Linked DNA regions of Homo sapiens. The protein of the gene in region 2 interacts with the protein of the main gene of each other region in a pairwise test. Each region holds a gene or a part of one and is shown on either strand. Other genes may lie near its edges. The genes, in order: PEX1 and TBC1D22A.

Region 1 (3,821 bases), on a different chromosome or scaffold from region 2:
ATCCCCAATACAATTTTATTACCTATAGTTGTCAGGTTGTACATTAGATCTCTATCAATTCATTCTTTTTTTATTTGAGACAAGGTCTCACTCTGTTTTCCAGACTGGAGTACAATGGCAAGATCCTGACTCACTGCAGCCTTGACTTTACGGGCTCAAGCGATTCTCCTGCCTCAGCCTCCCAAGTGACTGGGACTAATGGCATGCACTACCATGCCTGGCTAATTTTTGTATTTTTAGTAGATACGGGGTTTCACCATGTTGCCCAGCCTGGTCTTGAACTCCTGGACTCAAGCAATCCACCTGCCTTGGCCTCCCAAAGTGCTGGGACTATAGGCATGAGCTACTGTGCCTGGCCCCAATTCATTCTTATAATTCAAAACCAACTCAGAATATATAATAAAGCTTAGAGAAAGCTAAAGACATTGATATTGTGAAGTAATTTAACCTTAAATGAGATAGTTCTTATTTGGTTTTCTTTACCAGTATCTCCCAATCATCTGCTGAGAGGGGTTCCACCTCAACTTGTTGACAAGATACCACATGGGAACATGGCTTGAGAAATACCTAGAAAAAATTAAAAATTTAAAACTACTTTAAAAAAACTTTTCTGTGTCATATATTAGAAAATAAGAAGTTATCTTCTTACCATTTTAGGTTAAGTAGATGTGTGTGTATGTTTTGGATGGGGGTGTATATGTAGTCTATGTAATCTTTCTTTTCTGTTTTGAGAGATGGGGCCTGGCTCTGTCACCCATTCTGGAGTAGAGTGGTACAATCATAGTTCACTGCAGCCTGGAAACCCTGGGCTCAAGCAATCCTCCTGCCTCAGCCTCCTGGGTAGCTGGGAAAACAGGTGCAAGCCACTGCACCTGGCTATATGTGTAGTCTTTCATGTGGCAAATATTTATTACTTATTCTTAGCCAAGACTTGATATACTCAGCATTTTAGGAAAAACTGTTTCATAACTAATTACAGAATGAAGAAAAATACATCTCAGCATGACATGTTTTTCAAAAATGAAAGTAATCATTAAAATGTAAAAATGTAAGTAAAAAATATAAGAAGAAATGACTATATCATCAAGTTATGGCTTGATCTAATATATAAATATTCTCATTATTTCTAGAAGTTTTGCAACAGACATGCTGCTTCAAGAAAAGTGAAAAATACACTGAAATAGACACTGGAGACAAATATTGAGAAGTATAATCCTTCACAGTTGAAAGTTAAGTAAAACTAATAATACCCTCCTATTATAGTTTAAATATATGTAACACTAGTATGTCTATAAGCTGGAGTCACCATCTTACTTCCTTTCCCCTTCCATAGGCATTTCCAAGGATTAAAGGAGTAAAATCCAAAGCCTCTGCATGTTAAATACTCTAGGTAACCAACCCTTCCTCTCTGCTTTTGTGGACTGGAGCAGGATTTCCCTGAGTGCCTCACCCCCAGACTCCTCAGTAGATTTCTCTTCAATATCTCCCTTACTGAAAAGGATGATTCTGAGCAAGCACAAAGCAGCTCCTGCCCACCAAGAAGCTAGAGACTCAGTTTCTTAGTGGCATTGCTGCAATAAGGGATCTAAAAAAATCAGGTAAAGTCACTTCAAAGCAAATGGGAGTTAAAAACAAGTAGGATTCTTCAGAGTACTAATTAAGACTTGAAAATCAGGAAGTTGATGTTGCCCACAGGGAAGTGCTGGGTACTCAGAGGGCAGAACTGTAACCTGCTAAGCAATCCTGGGTAAAATATTCCATCTCCTTGTATTGTAGAACAAAGCACCAAAGTTAATGATTTCTAAGGTCCGTCTGGTGCTAAAATTTTAAGATTCTAGCAACAATTTAGAGTATGCAAGGGACTAGTGTTAGGTTTACAGATTTCTCATGAGTAGCCTATTCTCATCAAAAAACATGCATAAACAAGATTAGTCTGTGCTCAAAACAAGTTAAAAAGACATGGCACTCTCGTGTATTGTCATGGGAAATTAGTAATAGAGAGCAATGTAGCCCCATCTATATAAGTTTTAAACGTATAGCACCCTTGGCTATTCTGTTTTTAAATGTTTCAGTCCACATATATATCTGATTCTGAGAAAGCACAAAGCAGCTCCTGCCCCCTAAGAAGCTAAGGACTCCTGGCCTAGCCAGTCCACTTTCTGTTCCTATCAGTGATTCTTCAGGAGATAGTGTCTTACTGGCAGGGCTGCAACAGAGGATCATGAAGACGCACACAGAGAGAGAGAGAAAGAGAGAGACATGTTAAATGCACATTGTTTGTAATACATGGAAAGGTATCTGAAATATTTTGTGGGGTAATAATTGCAGAAAATATGAATGATCTCATTCTTCCAATCCTAAAGGTCTACTGAGATCCCCATTCTGAGGATGGGACTGGGAAAAGGTAAAAACTCATTTTTTACTTTCAATGGTAAAATAGTTATAATGAATATGTATTATTACTACATCTTCTTCTTTTAAGAGATAGGGTCTTGCTATTGCCCGGGCTGGAGTGCATAATCATAGGTCACTCAAATTCCTGGTCTCAAGCATTCCTCCTACCTCAGTCTGCTGAGTAGCTGGGACTACAAGCATTTGCTACCATGCCCAGCTAATTTTTTTAATTTTTTTATAGAGATAGGGTCTTGCTATGTTGCCTAGCCAGGCTAATCTTGAACTCGTGGCCTCAAGTGGTCCTCCCACCTTGGCCTCCCAAAGCACTGGGATTACAGGCATAAGCCATTGAGCCCAGCCTCACATTATTCTTACAGTTTAGAAAATGTTTAAAGGAATAACTTGATAAACATAAGAAAACAAAAGATAGACATAGGTATTCAAGCTTTCAGGTTTATAATCTAAACATATTAAACTCATAAGGGAAAACAAAAATGGAAAAATAATAACCCTGTGTTGTAGAATTTTTTATTTTTTATTTTTTTTCAAGACATTGTTTCGCTCTTGTCACCCAGCTGAAGTGCAGCAGTGCAATCTCAGCTCACTGCAACCTCCACCTCCCAGGTTCAAGCAATTCTCCTGCCTCAGCCTCCTGAGTAGCTGGGATTACAGGCACCTGCCACCATGCCCAGCTAATTTTTGAATTTTTAGTAGAGAGGGGGGGTTTCACCACGTTGGGCAGGCTGGTCTCCAACTCCTGACCTCAAATTATCCGCCCACCTTGGCCTCCCAAAGTGCTGGGATTATAGGTGTGAGCCACCGCACCCAGCTGAATTTTTTATTTTTAATCAAGTGAGACCATGGAAGGTTATAAAATATGTCAGAAATAAAGTTTAATAATAGTAAGTAGAACCTAGTAATTCAGAAGGAAAAATAATTTCATGAAACCAAAATTAGGGGATGTGGAAAATGAGTTAAATAGTAGAATAAGAAGCAAGTAGGGAGTATGGTAAACTACAAGATAATGACCTAAAAACAGAGTATAGTCAGCTTCAATATCCTAGACTAGTTACATAATAGCATACAAATTAGGTGACATCTCACCTCCTTTAACAAAAAATCTAAACTTTTAATTTTATTTCTATTGCTATATTATGTGATATTAGAAGAAAGTTATTGCCATCACATGTGCTTACCTGTCCCCCATTTGAGAGTCCAAGTTTTTGACCAACTTGTCTGTTAATTTCAGCCACATTTTCACCTTGATCACTAAAATGCCTGCCTTCCACCCAGCTCAAGAATGCAGGCTGGTGACTCCAGACCACTTCTATAGCTTGATTCTATTCATATAAGAAATGAGAGGAAAAAAGGTTTTCGTATACATTTTTCTGGATTCACATGAAAATAAACTATTATTACAATTCACA
Region 2 (3,821 bases):
CACCTTACATGGCAAAGGGGACTTTGCAGATGCAATTAAGAATACGAATGAGGTGGGAGACCATCCTGGGCAATCCGGATGGGCACAATCTAATCATGAGTACTCAAAAGCAGAGAACCTTCCTGGCTGTGGTCAGAGCAGAAGAGACCGCGGAAGGTCACACAAATGCAACATGGCTGACTCTGTACGTGGAGAAAGGGGGCTGTATGCCAAGGAACGTGGGCGGCTTCCTGGAGCTGGAGAGAGCAGGGAAAACGCTCTCCCCTGGAGCTTCCAGAAGGAACCAGCCCCGCCAACACCTTGGTGTTAGCCCAGCGAGACCCACATCAGACTTGCAAATTCTAGAACTCTAGGATACCATGTTTGCTGTAAGCCAGTAAGTTTGTGATGATTTGCTAGAGCAGTCACAGAAAGACAATGGCGGTGGCCAATCTGTTTTCCTTGGTCTGGGAGGCTGAGCCACTCTTGTGTCCTTTCCTCGTGACTCCACTTTGGGGACGACACTTGGAAAGGCCTGACCCTTCTGAGAGTGCATAAACATTGCCGTGTGCTAGTTCAATCCTTCTAGAGGGCTCGTTCCTACCCTTAAGTTTTCAATCCACCTAGAATTTATTTTATTTTGCTATATAGTGTTTAGTAGGAAACTTTAAAAAAAAATAAAGAAGGGTTCAAATGTCATTTATTCAGTAACCTCTCCTTTCACCCACTGCTTTGAGAACATCATCTTTAACGTTAAAATATTACATTGGGTCATTTTTCAGTTTCCCACTCAGTTTCTATTCAGTATCCCATTCCTATGCCTGCAGCACAACATATTAATTATACCAAATGTTCACTTTTATATTCTAAGATTTTTCAGCAAAACTTGACAAACATTTTTTTGATACTGACTCTCGGACAGGGCACTGGGGAGGCAAAGGTAAGCACAACACATCCAAACTATTCCGGCCCTTACAGTTTACTCACAAAAGCAAAACTTCAACTGGCATTTTGACTGTTCTATGATGATTCCTACAAGAGCATGTCACAGGAGCACAGAAACCCAGTCTTATCGGGAGGCCGAGGCGGGCGGATCACGAGGTCAGGAGATCGAGACCATCCTGGATAACACAGTGAAACCCCGTCTCTATGAAAAATACAAAAAATTAGCCGGGCTTGGTGGCACGTGCCTGTAATCCCAGCTACTTGGGAAGCTGAGGCAGGAGAATGGCGTGAACCCAGGAGGCAGAGCTTGTAGTGAGCCGAGATTGCGCCACTGCACTCCAGCCTAGGCGACAGCGAGACTCTGTCTCAAAAAAAAAAAAAAAAGAAAAGAAGGAAGATTCCTTAAGAAAAAAAATCACACTTAGAACTAGGAAAAGTGGCTGGCAGAAGGTTGAGACAAACAAAACAGCACGTACCTGATCTGAAGGCCAGGAGCAGTGGAATCAGTGGGACATCAAAGTGGCAGCCAAGGGCCTGTCACCACAGCAAGCAGAAACATGAGCCCACACCCGGCCTTCCTTCAAAGGCCCAGGAGCCCAGTCCCACCCCTCACTCCACAGAGGAAGATTGGAAACCCAGAGAAGAGAAAGGAATTCAAAAGAGTCTGGCCCCTTGAAGGGTTTGTTATGACTTCTCCTTCCCAAAAAAAAGCCAATAAGGAGAAATATATGATTTCAGAAGAAAATTCTAAAGTCAGCATCCAGATGAAAACATCACATTTATTTCTGCATACATCAGAGTGAGTTTCAGTTTCAAACTGAAGATGACCTGAAAGCAAAGCGCTGATCCCTCCTCTCAACCAGGAAGGACCTACGAGGCAGGCACTGTCCTGGGTGCTGAGGACACAGACGCCCTGTGGCATGAACCACAGGCGGGTCCCAGTGGGGCTGGTGCTGGATACTTTTACCAAAGGAATGAAACACACAGAAAAGTGAAGGAACAGCCCTGTGACCACCATGCCACGTGCCACTGCTCAGCTCCAACCACTTTCAACAGCCTCCAGATTTGCTCAACATGCCGTTTCTTTTTTACTATCAATACTGCAAGCAATAAAGCATAGAGAATAATAGTAGTAGCTAACAGAGATGAGCATTATTTTAAACTCTCAATGTGTTAAGTCCTTTAATCTTTGCAACCCAATAAGGCAGATATCATTACTCTTCCCATTCAAAAGGTGGAAAAACTGAGGGACAGAAAGCTTAAGAAAGTAGCCTGCCTGGCCGGGCGTGGTGGCTCACGCCTGTAATCCCAGCACTTTGGGAGGCCGAGGCGGGTGGATCACGAGGTCTGGAGATCGAGACCGTCCTGGCTAACACAGTGAAACCCCGTCTCTACTAAAAATACAAAAAATTACCCGGTCGTGGTGGCGGACGCCTATAGTCCCAGCTACTTAGGAGGCTGAGGCAAGAGAATGGTGTGAACCCGGGAGGCAGAGCTTGCAGTGAGCCGAGATCACGCCCCTGCACTCCAACCTGGGTGACAGAGTAAGACTCCGTCCCAAAAAAAAAAAAAAAAAAAAAAGTAGCCTGCCCAAAGTCACCTACCCCTGGCAGGCTGCAGCCAGCTTAGTGACATATAGGACATAAGGAATAACCACACAGACACCACCCAGAGATTCACTTCCCCCAAATTCCAACATTTTGTCATATAATAGAGTTGAAACCCTCCCCATTCTGGTTCTCTACCTGCCTCCTCTGAGGTGGCTACCAACCTGTATTTGACATTTTCCATTTCCATGTAAGAGTTTATACTATTATGGAAGAGACGTGGATCTCTGGGCAACATACAGTATTATTCTGCACATTTGCAAAGTTTACACTGTTATCATTTCATACATATGTACCTTTGCAACTAGATGTTCCCTCAAGATTGTTCTTTATGTATCAATGTTAATGCACGCAGCTCCAGTTTTGTTCTGTGGGGTTTCACTGTATGAAAGCCAGTACTTTAGCAGTAAACCAACTTTTCAAAAGAAATGTTACATGGAAATGCCAAACAGGTAAAGGCAGAGCTACTCTGGTGAAGGGGAGACGCAGGAGCCGCCACATGCACTGGCCGGGCCACTCGACAGAAAGAGAGGAGAGGCAACTCCCAGAACCATAGCAGGACTCCACGGAGACACAGAAAGCTGCTGGTCTGGTTGTTTCCTTAAATATAAGGAAAATGAACAAAACCAAGAGATGGTTCTCTGAGTAGATGAATAAAATTGACAAACCTTTGGCTAGACTGACTAAAAGAAAAAAGAGAAGACTTAAATTACTAAAGTCAGACATGATGGAAAAGACATTATTATCAACCTTACAGAAATAAAAAGAATTATGAGAATATTATGAACAACTGTACACCAACAAATAAAATTAATTAGATACAATGCGCAAATTCCCAGAAAGATACACACAACTGAAACTTACTCAAGGAGCAGGAGGAAATATGACTAGATACATAACATGGAAAGAGGCTGAATTAGAGGCCGGGCACACTGGCTCACGTTTGTAATCAAGCACTTTGGGAAGCCAAGGTGGGAGGATCACTTGAACCCCAGGAGTTCAAGACCAGCCTGGCCAACAAAGCAAGACCTCATCTATTAAAAACCAAAAAACTAGTGGGCATGGTGGCACACACCTGTAGTCCCAGCTACTCAGAAGGCTGACGTGGGAGGATCACTTGAGCCCAGGAATTTGAGGTTACAGTGACCTATGACGGCACTACTGCGCTTAAGTGTGGGCAACAGAGCAAGATCCTGTCTCAAAAAAATAAAAAATAAAAATAAAGAGACTAAATTAGTAATCAAAACACTACGCACAAAGAAAAGTCCAAGCCCAGAGGGATTCACTGGT

What was found.
Region 1: the proteins of TBC1D22A (region 2) and PEX1 interact in binary tests that used the Homo sapiens proteins (3 or more experiments, as listed by UniProt).

The regions. Positions count from the first base shown.
Region 1 is NC_000007.14:92,518,512-92,522,332, forward strand, and holds part of PEX1 (peroxisomal ATPase PEX1), read right to left. Parts: intron 3,735-3,821; coding exon 3,591-3,734; intron 568-3,590; coding exon 484-567; exon of another isoform or gene 449-483; intron 1-448. UniProt on the Homo sapiens protein: Component of the PEX1-PEX6 AAA ATPase complex, a protein dislocase complex that mediates the ATP-dependent extraction of the PEX5 receptor from peroxisomal membranes, an essential step for PEX5 recycling.
Region 2 is NC_000022.11:46,786,617-46,790,437, reverse strand, and holds part of TBC1D22A (TBC1 domain family member 22A), read right to left. Parts: intron 1-3,821. UniProt on the Homo sapiens protein: May act as a GTPase-activating protein for Rab family protein(s).